Regions from separate parts of the Homo sapiens genome. Here region 1 is linked to region 2. A link means that fine-mapping ties the variant in region 2 to the plasma level of a protein whose gene starts in the linked region. Region 2 holds a variant in brackets. A gene starts in the other region. All regions are shown on their reverse strands.

Region 1 (10,286 bases), not on the chromosome of region 2:
TTCTCACTTGCTGTGGTGTCTTTGCGCTGAGTCACAGCAGTGGACAGCCACCGAGGACCCTCCCCTGTGAATCTGCGGCACTGACCGCACAACCACCTCTCCTGGGTCCTGGAGGTGAATCTCCTGTCCCAGTGTGAGCCAATCACGAGCCCTCAACCCTCAGCAAAGGTGATGGATGGGAGACAGTCACATGACCAAGAGTCCTTACCTGAATTAGCTGATATCAGGAGGGAGACATTCCTCTTACTGCTGCTGATGGGATTGCTAAACTTGGACGATGATAACTTGGAGTTTCCAGAACTCAACTTCTTTACAGCATGAGGGCCTGCTGGAGAAATGGAGAGAGAAATAAGCAAGAGCTCTGCCATCATCCTTTGAGCTCCTGGATCCAGCTGAGCCTGAAGCTGTTGACTGGTTATTTAAGCCAATGAGTCTCCCATGTGCTTGAGCTTTCCATCTGTACCAGTGGAAAGTGTCCTGATTAAAAGAGCTGGACTGGCTGGGTGCAGTGGCTCATGCCTGTAGTCCCAGCACTTTGGGAGGCCAAGGCAGGTGGATTGCTTGAGTCCAGGGGTTCAAGTCCAGCCTGGGCAACATGGCACAACCTGTCTCTGCAAAATGAAAATAAAAAATTACCCAGGCATGGTGGTGTGTGCCTGTAATCCCAGCTACTTGGGAGGCTGACGTGGGAGGATTGCTTGAGCCCAGGAACACAAGGCTGCAGTGAGATGTGATTGTGCCACTGCACTCCAGCCTGGGTGACAAGAGTAAAACCCTGTCTCAAAATAATAATAATAATAATGAGCTGGAGCCAGGCATGGTGGTTCATGCCTATAATCCCAGTGCTTTGGGAGGCCAAGGCGGGCAGATCATCTGAGGTCAGGAGTTCGAGACCAGCCTGGCCAACATGGTGAAACCCCGTCTCTACTAAAAATACAAAAATTAGCCAGGCGTGGTGGCGTGGGCCTGTGCTCCTGCTACTTAGGGGGCTGAGGCGGGAGAATCGCTTGAATTCAGGAGGCAGAGGTTGCAGTGAGCCGAGATCGTGCCACTGCACTCCAGCCTGGATGACACAGCAAGACTCCATCTCAAAAAATAAAAATAAAAAATAAAATAACAATGAGCTGGATTAGTGGAGCATGCCTGTAGTCCCAGCTACTCAGGAGGCTGAGGTAGGAGGATTGCTTGAGCCTGGGAGGTCAAGGCTTCAGTGAGCTGTGATGGCGCCATTGCACTCCAGCGTGGGTGACACAGTAAGACTCTGTCTCAAAATAATAATAAAAGAGCTGGACTGGTGGCACACACTTGTAATCCCAGCTACTTGGGGAATCTGAAGTGGGAGGATTGCTTGAACCCACAAGTTTGAGGCCGCAGTGAGCTATGATCATGCTACTGCACTCCAGCCTGGGCAACAGAGCAAGACCCCATCTCCAGAAACAAAAACTGGACAATGACTCAATCAGTTGGTCATTCACTTGGTGCCCCACTCACCAGCAACTGGCTTTGTTTGGGGTTCAGGCAGGTGTCAGTATTCTGGTCTCCAATTCCCTCCCTCGGGGTCTGAACCACACATGGGCTTGCAGGCAGGGAGGGCAGGCCCCCTAGATGCCCAGCAGAGGTCTTGCCCACCTTGGAAGGTCTGCGTGTTGTGGTGGAGCTTTGCAAAAACCTTATTTCGAGCATCCAGGAGCTTCATGGCTCTCTGCACCTCCCTGCTTTTGGGGTTCCCACACACCTTCCTGTGTCTCTTGGGGAGGTAGAATCTGTGGTGAGCAGAGGGGGGTGCCCAGGTTAGGGTGTAGGCTGGCAGCAAGGCTGTGTGTGCACCCCACCCCCCCAGCCCCCACGGCCCCACTCACATCGCAGCAGGCAGATTGCAGCTCCCGCTCACCTCCTGGATCCGGTAAGTCCAGGCGCGCCGGAGCACAGCCCACCCAATGGGGTAGTGGTAGGCCAGGCAGCAGTCCTCAAAGACACCTGCAACCACACAGCCGCCCAGATACTCGCACCCTTGCATGTTAACTTGGCAGGGCCAGCCACAGGCAAGGGCACCTGTCTGCATACCTGTCTGCTCATACCACAACCCTTCCAGGCCCGGCAGAGGCTGAGGAACAGCCTTAGGAAAGAAAAAGCCTCCTGGCTCACCCCTTATCCCTGGATATTGGGACAGCCAGAGGTTGGAGAGGACCCTTGGGTCCCGGCTGGGAAGGGTGTGGAACCAGCAAATGAACGGACCAAGGCCACCTCTACTCCTGCTCTGGGGAAAAGGGTGACTCGGAGTGCAGGTGCACTGTGAGGAGGGGCCAACACCACCCCTCCCCAGCCAAGTTCTTCCCTCCTAAAAATGAGCTGATTGGCAGCTCAGCACAGTGGCTCATGCCTGTAAACCCAGCACTTTGGGAGGCTGAGGTGGGTGGATCACCTGAGGTCAGGAGTTTGAGACTAGCCTGGCCAATATGGTGAAACCCCGTCTCTACTAAAAAATATAAAAATTAGGCCGGGCGCGGTGGCTCATGCCTTTAATCCCAGCACTTTGGGAGGCCAAGGTGGGCGGATCACGAGGTCAGGAGATTGAGACCATCCTGGCTAACACGGTGAAACCCCGTCTCTACTAAAAATATAAAAATTAGCCGGGTGTGGTGGTGGGCGCCTGGAGTCCCAGCTACTCGGGAGGCTGAGGCAGGAGAATGGCGTGAACCCGGGAGGCAGAGCTTGCAGTGAGCCGAGATCGCGCCACTGCACTCCAGCCTGGGCGACAGAGTGAGACACCGTCTCAAAACAAAACAAAACAAAAAACAAAAATTAGCCAGGCATGGTGGTGGGCGCCTTTTTTTTTTTTTTTTCCAGAGTCTCACTCTGTCACCCAGGCTGGAGTGCAGTGGCTCAATTTCAGCTCACTGCAACCTCTGCCTCCCGGGTTCAAGCGATTCTCCTGCCTCAGCCTCCCGAGTAGCTGGGATTACAGGCGCCCGCCACCACGACCAGCTAATTTTTGTATTTTTAGTAGAGACGGGGTTTCACCATGTTGGCCAGGATGGTCTTGATCTCTTGACCTTGTGATCCACCCGCCTTGGCCTCTCAAAGTGCTGGGATTACAGGCGTGAGCCACTGTGCCTGGCTGATAGTGGGCGCTTTTAATCCCAGCTACTCTGGAGGCTGAGGCAGGAGAATCACTTGAACCCAGGAGGTGGAGGTTGCAGTGAGCCGAGATCACGCCATTGCACTCCAGCCTGGGCGACAATAGCAAAACTCTGTCTCAATGAAACAAAACAAAACACCAACCAAACAAACAAAAAATTGTTTTAATACAAAGTAAAGAGCTCTCAGTAAATGTCAATGTCTAGACAAGCAGAGATGAAACACACAGATGAATTAGACCTAGTGTTGTCTTCAGGGAGCTCCCGGGAAACTGATCTCTGCAGAAAGGGGGAAGCACAGGCACTGTGGGGGGTGCCCAGAGGAGGAGGAGGTGATGCCAGAAAGTTCTGGGGGGATGAGCAGGTGGAATGAATGAGCCGAGGATGAGCTGATGAGATAGTGGAGGAAGCTGGGGTGCAATTCTCTGCCTAAATGGCCTTTGGAGTTCTCTGCAATCTCACCTCTGCCAGAACTAACCTCCAGAGGCCGAGTCTGAGTCCCTGCAGAGCCCAGCCCAGCAGGAGCAGGGAAAGGGAGGACTCGAGCCCTCCAGGTGTCTCCCAACCGCGGCCTCTGAGGGCAAGGGGCAGCGCATTCTGTTGGAACCTCGGACTGCAGTGCCAGGCAGGTAGTTCCCAAGGCTGGAGGCCAGGATCGAAGGGCTGGGCTGGGCCTGGCTCTGATAGCAAAACAATCAGACCACAGCCCAACCCCCTTCCCAGGCAAAGGCCAAGGACTTGGACCCATCAGACCCAGCCGAGGGGCAGGTGGGTCAGGTGGGGGCAGACAGGGAAGGAGGGTGGGACCCTGGGTCTGCCGCCCAGCCAGGGACCCTGCTTTGGCCAGCTGCTGAAACTCAGAGGATGTAGGACCCAGTGTCAGGGCTCCCGTGGGGACACCCCAGGCCCAGGAATTGTCCTTTGGCGACTGAAATCCTCAAGTGCTTGCTCTGCGGTAGGGAGTGGGGAAGAAGGAAAGAGTTCCCTATTAATAACAGGAACAGTTACTATTGCCGCCGCCAGACATGAGGCCTAGTCTTTTGCAGGCATGAGCTCACTGGACCCTCAAGTCAGAGCCATGCAGTGGGAATTTTAGATTCCCACTTTGCAGCTGAGGAAACGGAGGCTCCTAAAGGTTTAGGAAGCCGGGCACAGTGGCTCAAACCTGTAATCCTAGCACTTTGGGAGGCTGAGGCAGGCGGATCGCCTGAGATCAGGAGATCGAGACTACTCTGGCCAACATAGTGAAACCCCATCTCTACTAAAAAATACAAAAATTAGCCGGGCATGGTACACACGCCTGTAGTCCCAGCTACTTGGGAGGCTGAGGCAGAAGGATCGCTTGAGCCCAGGAGGCGGAGGTTGCAGTGAGCCAAGATCGCGCCACTGCACTCCAGCCAGGGTGACAGAGTGAGACTCTGTCTCAAAAAAAAAAAAAAAAAAATGGTTTAGGAGCAACTAACTCTCAGCTGGACTGCATGGAGGGACCAGGATGGGAATCCACTCTTGTCAGTCTCCAGGGCCCTGATCTCCAACCCCACCCCTGGCTCGGCAGGATTAGGATTCTACAATACATCCCTGGCAGTAACTGGCTTTGCCCACAGCTGGAAGCCACCCTCTGCTCCCTCACATCTTTAGGAGTCTTGCAAAAGACTCCATGGGGCTCTCGAAGAAGGAACTGGGGACTCTCCATCTCCCCGACCCCATCCCAAGAGCTAACCAAACACCAGGAGTTCCTGCATGTCAGGAGCGGGAGAATTCAGTGGAGATGGGATTGGGGAGACTTCCGGAGGAGATAAGAGACAAAAGGGGTGGGGTGGGGGCATGGGGAGAGGGGCACTTGGTGGTAGGCATTGCCGAACACAGTACCTTGGGTGTGGACAGCGGGGGCCCAGGCTCCCAGGAAGCCGGCCACCAGGCAGGCCAGGAGCCACAGGTTCATGCTGCAGGCGGGTCCTCCTCCCTGGGCACCTGGACGAATAACGGGGCCACCTGGGGTCGTGGAGGGAAGTGGTAAGGACTGAGGAAGAGGAGGGGAGTGGGTACTGGGAACATCCCCCCTCTTAAGCCCCAGGCATATGGCAAGGGAAGGAGGTTGTATAAAGTAGGAACAAGTTGTGCTGGAGGGAAAAGCTGTTCATCTCAGTCATGTTCAAGGAAAAGACTCACCGATATCCACTGGGTCAAGGGAGCTGATGCCCGCCGGGCTGTAGGCCAAGCTGTCCCATCTGCAGGACCAACACGCTGAGCTTCACTCTTTATAGACAGAGCCCCACCCAGCCACCCCCTGCCCGCCCTCCTCCCTTCCTCCTCCTCTCCACCTGCACTCTCAGCCTCTGGAATTCTCCCTCTTCTACAGCAAGCTCCAACCTCGACCCACAGGCCCCCTTGCCTCCCCACTCCCCATCCCAGGCCTCCCAGCCAGCACCCCTACTGTCTCCAGAAAGGGCCTTTTCCCCTGTTTCCCTCACCTGCACACACCTGGTGGACACTGGCTGCCTGCGAACAAGGCTCAGACTGCCTTGAGCCCCCAAACAAGCCCTTACCTTCATGCTCCCCCCGCCCTCAAGCCACCTGTTCCCTGGTGGGTCCCCAACTTCACTCCATTTCCCTCTCCTTCCACACCATGGTTAGGTAACTTAGCATGTCACAGAAATCCTCTGGTTGTGATCACAGGCAAATCCATAGAAACAGAAAGTAAATTAGCGGTGGCCACAGGATGGGGGGAGGGGAGAATGAAGGACTGACTGTGAGAGGGTATGGGTTTCCTTTTGTTCTGAAATTAGATGAGAGTGATGGTTACATAACTCTATGAATATAGTCAGCACGGCACAATGGTGCACCTCCCACCGGTGAACAACCCCAACAAGAAAGAAACTCTCTAGGCCAGGCATGGTGGCTCATGTCTGTAAGCCCAACACTTTGGGAGGCCGAGGCCAGAGGATTGCTTGAGCCCAGGAGCTCAAGACCACCCCGGGCAATATAGAGAGACCTGCGTCACTACAAAAATTTTTTAAAAAATTAGCCTGACGTAGTAGTGCATACCTGTAGTCCCAGCCACTCAGGAGGCTGAGGTGTGAGGATTGCTTGAGCCTTGGAGGTTGAGGCTGCAGTGAGCTGTGATCATGCCACTGCACTCCAGCCTGGGCAACAGAGCAAGACCCTGTCTCAAAAAATGGAAAAAAAAACGGTGGCCGGACACAGTGGCTCACACCTGTAATACCAGCACTTTGGGAGGCCGAGGCAGGCGGATCCTCTGAGGTCAGGAGTTCGAGACCAGCCTGGCCAACATGGCAAAACCCCATCTCTACTAAAATTACAAAAATTAGCCGAGTGTGGTGGGGGGGCACCTGTAATTCCAGCTACTCAGGAGGCTGAGGCAGGAGAATCGCTTGAACCCGGGAGGCGGAGGTTGCAGTGAGCCGAGATTGGGCCACTGCATTCCAGCCTGGGCGACAAGAGTGAAACTCTGTCTCAAAAAAAAAAAAAAAAAAAAAAACAAAAGAAAAAGAAAAAATGGAAGAAATGTTTTGTTTTTGGAAGAAAAGCCAGGAGCCCCGGGTAGCCATGCCCTCAGGAAGCAAAGCAACATTCACCGAGAAGGCATGTCTTTTTTTTTTTTCTTCTGAGACGGAGTCTTGCTCTTTTGCCCAGGCTGGAGTGCGGTGGCGCTGTCTCGGCTCACTGCAAGCTCCGTCTCCCGGGTTCACGCCATTCTCCTGCCTCAGCCTCCCGAGTAGCTGGGACTACAGGCTCCCGCCACCACGCCTGGCTAATTTTTTGTATTTTTAGTAGAGACGGGGTTTCACCATGTTAGCCAGGATGGGAGAAGGCATGTCTTCTTTCCCTGGGGCAGCAGGACCCAGCCAGGACACAGGGACTGGGGGAGACACGAGGTGAAGATTAGGGAGGGCGAAAGGAGCGCTGCAGAGGCCGCACAGCTGATTGCTTTAAACTTTTTATCGCCTGCATCCATAGCTACATCTGACCTCTGTGGGTATTTATCACATCCTAAACTCCTTTCTCATTTCTCCCCTTCCACTGGGAGCCCAGAGGCGGCGGCCCCTAGCCTACTTCCCTGTCCCAAACCACATGGCCGGGTGAGTGGGGCTTAGAGGTGGGGCCGGGCCTGGTGGGTGTGGCTTCTAGCCGGGGACGTGACTAGATAAATGACACTTAGAGCCCAGGGGCAGGGCTGGGTGGGCGTGGCTTATGGCTATGGGCGGGGCTTGCTATATGGCTCCGAGTCAGGGGCAGGGCAGAGTGAGTGGGATTTAAGACAGTGGGCGGAGCCTGACAGATGGCGCTTATGGTAAGGGGCCGGGCTTTGTAGGAGGGGCTTAGACTGGGGCGGGGCTTGCACGGTCAGCCCCGCCCCACCAGAGCAGTTAAGACGCGTCGGGGGCAGGTGCTCTCACCCGTCCCGTTGCTGCGGCCAGTGGCAGCCCACGGGCCGGGGCGCTGTTCCAGTTCCTCCGCCTCTTGCTCTGGGTGGGTGAGGCTGGACCAGGACGCGGCTCCGCGTGGCTGCGAGCGTGGGGAAGCGGCGTGGCGGGCTGGGGCCAGCCTCTCCGCTACGGCTCACTGCCCCCTACCTTCCCAACCCGCGGGCCGCGGCCAAGACGGTGTTACCCAGACTTGGGGGAGGTCCCCAACGTGAGTCTCCCTCCCTGCCTCACCCCTCACTGTTTGTCCCGCCGGCAGCCTTCACGGGGAGGAAGGGTTCCCAGTAAGGGGGCCCTCCAGGGACCAGCAAGCACGGAGCACTGGGGTGGGCGCGCTGGGGACCTGGGACCCAGGGGTTGGAGCAAGAAACGGGATGATCCCGGAGTTCTGAGGACCACAGTTGCTTTGAGTAAAGGCCAGACCTTCACAGTCGGGGCTGGACTGGCCTCTTCCACTCCTGCAGCAGCTGGGGGCATTAAGAGTAATCCGCTATCGGCCGGGAGCAGTGGTTCACACTTGTAATCCCAGCACTTTGGGAGGCCGAGGCGGGCGGATCACCTGAGGTCAGGAGTTCGAGATCAGCCTGGCCAACATGGTGAAACCCCATCTCTACTAAAAATACAAAAAAAAAAAAAAAATAGCCGGGCATGGTGGTGCGCACCTGTAATCCCAGCTACTTGGGAGGCTGAGGCAGGAGAATTGCTTGAACCCAGGAAGTGGAAGTTGCAGTGAGCCAAGATCTTGCCATTGCACTCCAGCCTGGGCAACAAGAGCAAAACTCCATCTCATAAAAAAATAAAAGAGCAGTCCGCTATCAGCAAGGGTCCTCTTCTCCGCCAGTGTGAAATCAGCACAGCTGGGGGGAACAAGTGCCCCCCACACCGACTTCTGTTCTGCACCTCTGATGATGGGAGCAGTTGAGGGTGGTCTCCATCCTGTAGCTCAGCCAAATTCAGAGACCAATACCCCAGAGCCTGCAGGGTTGGGTGGGTAGGCAGGTGTCTTTCTAGACAAGCCCAGTTGGTTGCAGTGGCCAGGTGGTGGGCAGGGGCGATGAGATGTTCTGGGAAGCCTGCACCAGCCACCACCACATCTGCCCTACCCAGTGGCAGGCACCTCTAGTGGGATGAAGGATGCTCCTGGGTGCTCACCATTGGCCCAACTGTGCAAAGGAGGAGATTGAGGGTCAGAGAAGCCAAGTTACTTACTTTTTTTGTTGGCCAGGAAAATCTAATTTTTATTTCTTAAATACTGTGAAGAAAAGGACAGTCCCCCAATGGGGAAGCGCCATAGAGCAGATGACTGGGAGGTCATCGGCAAAGGCTCAGGGGCACTGGGAGAACACTATGGGCAGAAGTGGGGGTCCTCCTGTAGTCACTTTTGCATATCAGACCCCAGCTGCCTGCAGCTCTCCTGAACTCTGGTGCCTCCAGGTCCCTGATGAGACTCTTGGCTTCTGATGGGCCCCCACTGCCCTGCATGGTCACGAGTCTTGTAGGGAGCAATCCACACCCCAGGAGCCCCGTCTGCCAGGCCTGGACTCCTGTTGTACCCACAGCTGCCTCTTTTTTTTTTTTTTTTCGAGACAGAGTCTTGCTCTGTTGCCCAGGCTGGAGTGCAGTGGCAGGATCTTGGCTTACTGCAACCTCCACCTCCCGGGTTGAAGCGATTCTCCTGCCTCAGCCTCCCGAGTAGCTGGGACTACAGGCGCCTACCACCATGTCTGGCTAATTTTTGTATTTTTAGGAGAGACTACATTTCACTATGTTGCCCAGGCTGGTCTCGAACTCCTGACCTCAAGTGACCTGCTGGCCTTGGCCTCCCAAAGTGCTGGGATTACAGGCTTGAGCCACCATGCCCAGCCTCCAGTTACCTCTTTTTAAAGAGAATTTGGTTATTTGAAAGATCTTTCTTCTTTTTTATGTAGGCATTTATTTATTGCTATAAACTTCCCTCTTAGAACCACTTTTGCTGCATTCATTGGTTTAGGTATATTGTATGTCCATTTCAGTTTGTCTCAAGTTTTTTGTTGTTGTTGTTTCTGTTTGTTTTATTTTGTTTTTAGAAACATCTCCCTCTATCACCCAGGCTGAGTGCAGTGGCACAATCGTAGCTCACTGCAGCCTCCAACTCAAGTGTTCCTCCCACCTTAGCCTCCCAAATAACTGGGACTACAGGTGAGCATCACCATGCCTGGCTAATTATTTTTATTTTTTGTAGAGATGGGGGGAGCGTCTCACTATGTTGCCCAGGCTGGTCTTGAACTCCTGGCTTCAGGTGATCCTCCTGCCTCAGCCACCAAAGTGTTGGGATTACAGGCGTGAGCCACTGCACCTGGCCTCAAGATATTTTTTAATTTCGTTTTAATTTCTTCTTTGACACATTGGTTGTTTAGGAGAGTGTTGTTGAATTCTCACGTGTGAATTTTCCAGAATTCCTCCTGTTATTGATCTCTAGTTTCGTATCACTGTGGTCAGAAAAGATACTTGATACAATCGCAATCTTACATTTGTTTTTTTGTTGTTGTTGTTGAGACGGAGTCTCACTCTGTTGCCCAGGCTGGAGTGCAGTGGCACCATCTCGGCTCACTGCAAGCTCCACCTCCCGGGTTCACGCCATTCTCCTGCCTCAGCCTCCCAAGTAGCTGGGACTACAGGCGCCCGCCACCACCACACCTGGCTAATTTTTTGTATTTTTAGTAGA
Region 2 (10,286 bases):
TGTTCCCCATGATCTCCCTAACACCCAGAGCATAGCCTGGCATATAACAAGTGCTCAGTAAACACCTGCTGAATGAATGTCTGCCTCCCCACCCTTTGCATTCTTCTGTAGGACCACCATGGTACTCAAGCTCCAGAGAGGAAAGTACAAGGACAAATGAAGGCATTTTTTTCTCAGGAGACCATTTCTGAGATGCTGGATGCACAAGACAACCCTTAATTAAATGATTGTGGCAGAGTACAGCCAGAGACCCACGTATGAAACCCACAACTTTGGTATTCCATCACCTTCTCCATCAACCCTACTGCCAAACTCTGTCACTTCCTGCCTTGACATGTCTCAGCTTTCATCTGCCACTCCTTCCGGCTAGGCGCTCACCACCCACCCTCTCGGTCACTGCAGTAACCACCTCACTACATCCTAGCCATCCTGCAAACTTCCAACAGCCTAATCAACCTACAGTCACAAGTTCCTGGGATGTAGAAGGGGTTGGTAAGTATTTAAAGGCAGTGGGGTGGCTCACGCCTGTAATCTCAGCACTTTGGGAGGCTGAGGAAAGAGGATTGCTTGAGCCCAGGTGTTCAAGACCAGTCTGGACAACATACTGAGGCCCATCTTTACAAAAAGTTTAAAAATTAGCTAGGCATGGTGGTGTATGCCTGTGGTCTTAGCTACTAGGGAGGCCAAGGCAGGAGGATTGCTTAAGCTGAAGAAGTCGAGGCTGCAGTGAACCACTAGACTCCAGCCTGGGTGAAAAAGCAAGATTCTGTATCCAAAAAAAAAAAAAAAAAAAAGTGTTTGAACAATTAAAGTACAAATCAGTGGATGAAAAAAAGAAAACACTCCCTCCATATCAAACTCCTGCTTTAAACAATTTATGTTGGCTAGACACAGTCACAGTGGCTTGTGCCTGTAATCCCAGCAGTTTTGGAGATAGACGCAAAAATATTGCTTGAGTCCAAGAGTTTGAACCAGCCTAGGCAACATAGTGAGACTCTGTCTCTACAAAGAAAATTTTAAAATTAGCAGGCATAGGTCGGGCGCGGTGGCTCACGCCTGTAATCCCAGCACTTTGCGAGGCCAAGGCCAGCGGATCATGAGGTCAGGAGATCGAGACCATCCTGGCTAACACTGTGAGACCCCGCCTCTACTAAAAATACAAAAAATTAGCCAGGCGTGGTGGCGGGCACCTGTAGTTCCAGCTACTCGGGAGGCTGAGGCAGGAGAATGGCGTGAACCCGGGAGGCGGAGCTTGCAGTGAGCCAAGATGCACCAGCCTGGGCGAAAGAGCGAGACTCCGTCTCAAAAAATAAATAAAATAAAATAAGCAGGCATGGTGGCATGCACCTGCAGTCTTGCCTACTTGGGAGGCTGAGGTGGGGTGATTGTTTGAGTCCAAGAGTTTGAGACTGCAGCGAGCCATGATCATGCCACCAAACTCCAGGCTGGGCAACAGACTGAGACACTGTCTCTAAAAATAAAAAACATCAGTTAATCAATAAAATAAATGTATGTTGCTCCCTACCAAGTCCAAACTCAGCAACCTGGCCCTCAGGAGAGTCCACAATGAGGTTGCAACTACCATTTCATCTTCATCTCCTTCAAGCCTCTGCACTACAGAACTTGTGTTCCCTACAAAAGTTTGTATTCCCCAGACTTTCCACTTAGCTTATGCTATATTCCTCAAATGGAAATATTCACCTTTGCTTAGACACACACACCCGAATAACAACAGCCTGCTGTCGCTGGAGGAGGTATTAGAAATTCAAGCCAGAGGACTTCCTTTTGGAAAATACCCACAGCAAAATATTAAAAATGCTAGATGAAGTATGACAAACTGCTGTTTTATTTACATAGTAAAGCCCTCCACAAGGTAAGAGAATCTCCAGCAGCCAAATTTGAAGATGTAAAAATCAGAGCAGTAAGCAGATGCTAACATATTGGCAGCCTCTTGCAACCAACAATTTTAGATAATTAAATAAATTTGTTTTAAATTTTTTAAATGCAGAAGAATGATGTAGTTTATTTATATTTATTTATTTATTTATTTTTTATTATTATTTTGAGACAGAGTCTTGCTCTGTTGCCCAGGCAGTAGTGCAATGGCATAATCTTGGCTCACTGCAACCTCTGCCTCCCAGGTTCAAGCAATTCTCCTGCCTCAGCCTCCCAAGTAGCTGAGATTACAGGCATGTAATCTCATGCCCAGCTAATTTTTGTATTTTTAGTAGAGACGGGGTTTCACCATGTTGGCCAGGCTGGTCTTGAACTCATGACCTCAGGTGATCCACCCACCTCGGCCTCCCAAAGTGCCAGGATTTCAGGCATGAGCCACCGTGCCCAGCCTATTTATTTATTTATTTATTTATTTATTTATTTATTTATTGAGACAGAGTCTCACTCTGTCACCCACGTTGGAGTGCAGTGGCACAAAATCAGCTCCCTGAAACCTCCGCCTCCTGGGTTCAAGCGATTCTCCAGCCTCAGCCTCCCGAGTAGCTTGGATTACAGGCATGTGCCACCACGTCCAGCTAATTTTTGTATTTTTAGTAGACAGGGTTTTGCCATGTTGGCCTGGCTGATCTCAAACTCCTGACCTCGAACTCTGCCTGCCTCAGCCTCCCAAAGTGCTGTGATTACAGGTGTGAGCCACCGCGCCCAGCCACAATGTAGTGTTTAAAAACCCAACAAATTTGAAATAGAACAAAATAAAACTTACAGATATGAAAAATACAGTCACTACACTGGGCACGGTGGCTCACGCCTGTAATCCCAGCACTTTGGGAGGCTGAGGCGGGCGCATCACCTGAGGTCAGGAGTTCGAGACCAGCCTGACCAACATGGCGAAACCTAAAAATACAAAAATTAGCTGGGCATGGTGACACATGCCTGTAATCCCAGCTACTCGGGAGATTGAGGCAGGAGAATGTCTTGAACCTGGGGGACGTAGGTTAGAGTGAGCCGAGATCGTGCCACTGCACTTCAGCCTGGGTGACAGAGCGAGACTCCATCTCAAAACAAAACAAAACAAAACAGTCACTAAAATGAAAAAATGGGGTAGCGGTCTCTCCCTCCATTTCGTTCCCTCATTTCTCTACCCATTTTCTGTGCCTGTGCAACGTCCCCTGCCTTCTGCTATCGGAAGTCATTCACCTGGGACGTGCTGCCCATCTCCACTGCCCTTTCCCAGGCCCTCTACTCAGCTGAAATGGGAAGAAAGGAGACCCGGGACAGAGAGTACGTATTGCGCTGTGTGCCTGGTCCATGAGGGAATCCTCCACGTCCTCATCCTCCTGCCCACCTTTGCTAAGAGGTGCTGGTGAGCAGTCGGGACCAGCTGGCTGGTGAGGGAGGTGTGCGTGAGCACACACTGCACACATTCGTTTGAACCTGGGCTTGGCAGGCAGGGTGGAAAGCAGTGGATCAGAGGATTTGTAAGAAGATCTCAGCAGGGAGGCCTTTAATCTTTTAGGCAACTGCTTGTACGGAGACCATGTTGTCAGAGATGACCTTGGAGGCGAAAGCAGTCAGAACTATTGGGAGAGCTGCCACCTCTCGGTTCAGGCGACTGAGCCTTGAAAGACCAGGGCCAGATGTCAAAGATATTCCCTTCCGACTGTCCCTTTCACCCCTTAGTGACGTGCGCAACTTCCAAATCTACTCCTGCAAGGAAGCATCTCACTCCAAAGATTATGGAACTGAAGCCCTCAAAAGGACAGGAAATTAGTTACAGGTAAACTGATTTCCTGTAGACAGGAAACCAGGCAAATTAGTTACAAAGCTAGGATGTACACTGGCCATGCACGGTGTACATTAACTGGCCATGCGCGGTGGCTCATGCCTGTAATCTCAGCACTTTGGAAGGCTGAGGTGGGAGGATCCCTTGAGCCTAAGAGTTCAGGACCAGCCTGAGCAACATAGTGAGACCCCATCTCTAAAAACAAAATTTTTTAAAAATAAATAAATAATGAGATAACTGCCAGGTGTTCCTGCCTTTTAGTCCCAGAAATCCCAGTGTGTACACAGGGGTATGCAGCAGAGTGAGAGGCTATCGCTTCCCAGTTGCTGTGCTTCTGTGTCCTGGTACAGCCCCCCAGACAGCTCTCGTTCTCCGCAAAATCCTTGACTCCTAACCTGGCCCCCACCCCTAATATAAATCTTTGCCTGGGATGGAAAGATGCAGGCATTGCTGAACATCATGGAGGAAAAAAGTGATTGAAGAATGTGTATTTGGTGGCAAGTGCTGGATATGGATGGCACAGTAATGCTGGGGTACTGGACACAGCTGTGTCATGGGCTGAGAAGTTTAAGAAGCACTGGAAAAAGGGCCAGTTGAGGAATGTGTCTATTTGTCCCCTCCTGCCCAGCCATTCTCTAATTCCTATCAGACTGAGAGGGAGGAGATGGGAACCAATATTCATTGAGATCCTAATATGTGCTCGGCTCACTAAACCTCATTTAGTCATAAGGAAAGTTCTACGGGAACAGCATTATAGCTCCACTACCCAGACAAGGCTCCCGAGACTTACAAAGGAATAAGTACCTTCCTACAAGGTCTCACGATTGGTGAGTCATGGCGCTTGAACTGGAACCTTGCCCTGCCTTCAGACTCCACAGTTTTTCCAGGAATTATCAATGCTTTTCAGTCCACTCAGAGTCTGCCACAAAAAGTAAATGCTCCATAAACATTCTGCTTTAAGTTTAGAATGAATCACTTCTGCAGCCACTCAAGGTTTACAAAATAAATAAAAACTGCAGAATACACAACGTTCAATTTCCTGAGCATTTATACATAAAGTCTTTGGTCGGCCTGGAATGTGGTTTCTCTATTTCCACTCCCACCTCTCTCTATTCTCGTCCATTTGTGGGCCCTCTTCCTGGGTCGTGTGGCCACAAAGCAGAATGTGAGCTGTGCAGAGTGAGACACACACATAGCCTCTGCTAGGCACCACGAGAACACAATTTCAAAGAAGAAATGGGTGGAAGAGACACATGAAGTCTATTCCCTGGGCAGGGATTCTCAGCTGCTAATACAGGGGCTAGGTCTCTAAATTAGTTTGTGACTTTATGCATCCAAAAGCCACAGGCTGGCAGCAGCCATAGATCTTCATGTTGAGGTGTCCTTGCTGGTGTGAGGAGCTGGTGTGAGACCTTTGCAGGGATGGGTGCCCACATGACACACCAGGTTTCTGGCCTTCCTGGCCAGTCTCTCGGCTGTTCTCTCGGTAGTGTCAAGGATGCCTCCAATTTTATTGAATTTGCCTTGTATGGTGTCACTGTTTTCAACAAAAGTGGCTCAGTCCCCAATATCTGTCAGTAAATTCTAAGCTTTTGGTAGTCTTCTTATATGGAAAGACGTAATAATTTATTTGTGGATGTGATTCAACTTTTCAGTACCTAAATAAAGACCCCCAAAAAGGTCAGGGCAATACTTTTTTGGCTTTTTAAGTTTTTAAATCCAGACTTTTTGTCTAAGGCATCCTGGAATCCAACATCTGCTTATCACTGCTTATTACACTTCATTTTTTCAACAATGTCTAGGTCAGAGTGGTGACATTTTAGGTGATTGTTCATTTCTTCTTCATATTTGTATGTATACCATAGCACTTTTGTTGATTTATTTTATGCCTTGATTTGGTCCAGGAAAAACTAAAGTAGTTTACAATGACCATATAAGATAAGATGACATAAACTGGAAGTAGTTAGTTGTGGGAGTGGGGAGATAAAATAAAGGTACAGTCATAAAATTAGTAGAAAAATACAGATCATAAAATCCTTTACACTTTTCTCCAGGTGAAGAAAAAACTGAACCCTAAAGCTTCCTAGTAACCAACACGACGAGAGAAATCTGAGTGATTATGCAACTTACGTGACCAATAGAAATTAAAACAAACCGCTCAAGAGAAGCACAGCTGTTTCTAAGACCAAGACCAGAAGAAACATGTTTAGAGCGTTCTCATACAGGAATGAGCAACAGTTCTCAACTCCACCCTGGCAGGGTGCTACTGGAGAATTCCAGAGGCTACTATGTATCCTGCAGTCTTGAGGCCCCTGGTCTTCCTTGGCCTTAGGTTATTTTGTTAGTGATGCTGTGGTGCCTAAAGGCAAAAAAGTGCTTTCGCAGGGTTAATGTGGTCCAG[A/G]TACACAGCTGTTGTCTAGTATAATAAGCATGGATTATTTTTATCCCTATTTTATTTTGTTTATTTATTTATTTAAGACACAGTCTTGCTGTCACCCAGGCTGGAGTGCAGTGGCGCCATCTTGGCTCACTGCAGCCTCTGCTTCCCAGGTTCAAGCGACTCTTGTGCCTCAGCCTCCCGAGTAGCTGGGACTACAGGCACACACCACCACACCCAGCTACTTTTTGTAGTTGTAGTAGAGATGGGCTTTCATCATGTTGGCCGGGCTGGTCTCGAACTCCTGACCTCAAGTGATCTGCCCACCTTGGCCTCCCAAAGTGCTGGGATTACAGGTGTGAGCCACCACACCTGGCTGCATTATTTTTATCATCATAAAGAATATCATTTTAAAATGAGGCCGAGCACAGTGGCTCACTCCTGTCACTGAGCCCAGGAGTTCAAGGCTGCATAAGCTAAGATCACACCACTGCACTCTGGCTTGAGAGACAGAGTAAGACTCAGTCTCAAAAAATACTTTCATTAATTTAATTTAAAAAATTGCTAATAAAAAAAGAACCACAATCTGTATTATTCCATTTATATAAAATATTAAAATATGCTAAACTAATCTATGCTGATGGTAGTGATTCATAGCACCGCCCCCACCGGGGTACTGGGGTACTGGTAATACTCTGTGTCTTCATCGTGGTGCTCCCAACACAGGTATTTTCAGTTTGTGAAAACTGCTCATCAAGCTTTCCGTACATATACTTGAAAAAAAAGAGGAACCACAGGGACGATTTGCATGTTTATTTTCTTAAAAGTTGGTCAGTATCAGGCCTTTTGTAGTTATGAAATAAAGAACATATTGAACATAAAAATAAATTATATACTAAAATATTACAAGAATACAAAGAATATTCATTTTTGCTCATCCAATGGATACTTCTAAATTCAAAGTAGCACTTGTTAACTTGAGTCTGCAAAAATTTAAAGATCTGTCACACTTTGCTCAGAATATACAACACATGCAGCCCAGTGCCCTTTAGAGCCACTATCCGACTATTCTCACCTCTTCCACTCGCATTTTTGTATAGTGGTTAACATATAAATCTATTAATTATGTGAATCACAAGGTCAAAGAATTGTCTGAAAACTCCAAATGTCTGGTTGGCCTAGTTGAGACCACATAATCTTTACATATAACGAAAAGTGCTTGTGGAAAATAAAAGCGTAGTTTTTGAGACTGGTGGAACGCTGCAGAGGAGAACTAGACAGCGAGCGGCCAACTCCAAGAACAGCCTCTAGGACCCCTTCCAAAGCAAACTCTGCTATGTCGGCTGCTCTGCTCTGCTCCACAAAGCTCAGCACTAGAGGGCAAGCCCAGGCTCCATGGCCTGGAAAATTACTGCAGCGTACTTACCAGCCTCTCCAGAAGCCAGCACGGAAGCACTTTCAGAAGACCTTGTGCTACAAAGCAGTTATAACCATGCACAGCGTCTGAACAACTCCCAGGACAGGGAGTGGCAGGCAGCCCCAGCACCATCAAGCAGGGGAATGGGACCTCAACTCCCAGGACAGGGAGTGGCAGGCAACCCCAGCACCATCAAGCAGGGGAATGGGACCTCAACTCCCAGGACAGGGAGTGGCAGGAAACCCCATCACCATCAAGCAGGGGAATGGGACCTCAACTCCCAGAACAGGGAGTGTGGCAGGCAGCCCCAGGACCATCAAGCAGGGGAATGGGACCTCAACCCCCAGGACAGGGAGTGGCAGGCAGCCCCAGCACCATCAAGCAGGGGAATGGGACCTCAACTCCCAGGACAGGGAGTGGCAGGCAACCCCAGCACCATCAAGCAGGGGAATGGGACCTCAACTCCCAGGACAGGGAGTGGCAGGCAGCCCCAGCACCATCAAGCAGGGGAATGGGACCTCAACTTGAGGGTCCCTGGGTAGTAGGCAGGGTAAAGATGGCAGATGTGTTGCTGAGGTTCGCCGGCCACATCAGCACAGGGACTGAGAGACCAGGGAAAGGAGAGACTCTAAATATGGGTAAGGTCACCTATTGTCAAAAACTGCATTCCTCGTATAGGCAATGCCCAAAGAAAATACGCTTATGATTAAAAAAAAAAAAACCATTGATGTCTTATCGCTTATCTTCTGTATTTGTATTCAAAGGCTATTGTTGTGTATATGTATTATGGTACAGGGAACAAGAATTCCTAGGTTCTATTCTTGGATCAGTCCCTGATAAACACAGTATCTGCCAGTGGAAAATATCAGGTGCTTGGAAATTCAGAGCTGACACATTCATAACGAGAAGGTACTTATCTGAGCGCCTAGTATGTGCCCAGAATTGAAAGTTGATTAGAAGACACACATAGTAGCCTGGTGACTGGAATATCAGCATAAAGAGCGATAAACCGGACACGTGAAAAGGAGCTACACGAGAGGTAAACCACGTGAAAAGGAGGTTCCCTGGGACAGAGAGGCACACACCCACCAGAGCTGCATGAGACACAGTCCCTGCCCACAGGAGCACACGAGGCGGTTGTGCTTGCTGCTTCACTGGGTTTCAACTCCATGCCACACTATCCCTCCTCTGCCCACACATCTGTCTCATTTGCTTCTCCCTCTCTCCCTGCCTGCATCTCAGATTACTGCTGTGCCCTGCATTACCTCTCTCACTGGAGGGTTTGTATCCTTTCCAAATCAGAACGGCTGTGGTGGCCAGAGCTGCAGTCACTGCCTCACACCGCGGGTGTGCCTCCCTCAGCCCACTCGAGTCAGCCAGAAGTCACAAAGGCCAACCAGAGAGATGTGGTACAGATAGAGGTAAGGCAGCGAAAGCCAACGGCTTCCTGAGCTTCAGAATACTTTGGGATCCAGCAAGTAATCCTGGCACTTAAATGGGAGATCTAAAAGGAGCCAGCACATGCCATCCTTCTGTCTTGGATTTGCGCCCAAATGTCATCCCTTGGCTCTGAGATATTTCATCTCTAGAAACCATTTTTTTTTTTTAAGTAGAGTCTCGCTCTGTCACTCAGGCTGGAGTACAGTGGTGCAATCTCAGCTCACTGCAACCTCTGCCTCCTGAGTTAAGCAATTCTCCTGCCTCAGCCTCCCCAGTATCTGGGATTACAGGTGTGCGCCACCATGCCTGGGTATTTTTTTAATCTTTTTTAGTAGAGATGGGGTTTTGCCATGTTGGCCAGGCTGGTCTCGAACTCCTGACCTCAAATGATCTGCCCGCCTCGGCCTCCCAAAGTGCTGGGATTACAGGTGTGAGCCACCACCCCCGGCCTCTAGTCCAGAACTCTGCCTTCAGATAGAATCTTTGCTGATCCAATATGAACAAATGGGTATATAACTTGTGAAAACCTGCCTAATTGGAGAATCTTTAACTTCCAATAACAATTTGTTCCCAGGGCTGCTTTTCAGCCAGTACACACCAGGATAGCCGTACCACTTATTAAAACACTGAAATCCTTAAGCATGTGTTAGTACAGTGGCTGCCCCAGGCCCTCTGAGTGTCCCACTGCCACCCGGACCCCTCCCCAGGACAGCTTCACGACCCAGCAGCTAAAGAGTTAATGTTGGGCTCAACAAGGGGACTCGTCAGGACCCTGTTCCAGAACCACCATGCCACACCAAAAGTATTGTTACCCTTACCCGTCCCATTCTACAATGCTGCCGTATTCTAAAACTTTCAACTGCTTTCTGCTAGCTACTGAATAAATGCCACTCTTTAAGGTCTTTATTCAGCCTTCCACATACAGCATCATCCTCTATTCTTCTTATACCCTCTGTTTCACCAAACTCAGCTGCTCAGTATTCTCAAACATAAACTTTCCCCGACTCTTGGTCTTTGTTGACGTAACTCTTTCTGTCTCGAATAGCCTTTCTGTATCCACCAAAATCTTACCAACTCTTCAAAACGTCCCAAAATGTCACCATTTCCATGAAATATTAGTTGGGAGAGCTGTGCCCCCATTTCAAGAGGTGTCACAGAAACATATGCGTCCTATGTTTGCAAAACTTAATGACTGCTTTATATTACAACCATTTTGATATAGGCACCTTAGCTTTCCTCCTAAATGAAGCTGTAGATGCTAGAAACCACATCCTGGTCATCACACCTACACGGCCTGGCACAATGCCTGGCTC

Direction of the effects. Alleles are on the strand shown, and positions count from the first base shown. The strength of an association depends on the size of the effect and on how common the allele is.
In carriers of allele G in region 2, the plasma level of the protein whose gene starts at base 5,369 in region 1 tends to be higher than with A alone (moderate association).

What was found. A credible set is the group of variants that fine-mapping cannot tell apart. PIP is the posterior inclusion probability: the model's chance that the variant is causal. Protein levels are from antibody-based Olink assays in UK Biobank. Linkage for the fine-mapping came from a reference panel and not from the study's own genotypes, which makes the PIPs less certain.
Region 1: CCL25 starts here. The variant in region 2 is the best candidate, but not a certain one, in a credible set for the plasma level of the CCL25 protein (UK Biobank, PIP 0.78).

The regions. Positions count from the first base shown.
Region 1 is chr19:8,047,843-8,058,128 of GRCh38, reverse strand. It overlaps CCL25 (C-C motif chemokine ligand 25), which reads right to left and starts at 5,369. Exons shown (of 6, transcript NM_005624.4): 1 at 5,307-5,369; 2 at 5,007-5,129; 3 at 1,860-1,977; 4 at 1,630-1,763; 5 at 209-328. The coding sequence starts at 5,079. RefSeq lists silencers at 7,367-7,426, 7,727-7,816.
Region 2 is chr12:463,485-473,770 of GRCh38, reverse strand. The region is part of intron 1 of B4GALNT3 (beta-1,4-N-acetyl-galactosaminyltransferase 3); the gene reads right to left. LOC124902853 (a long non-coding RNA gene) reads right to left here and starts at 2,032. Exons shown (of 2, transcript XR_007063151.1): 1 at 1-2,032. The variant A/G (reference allele first, on the strand shown) is at 6,141.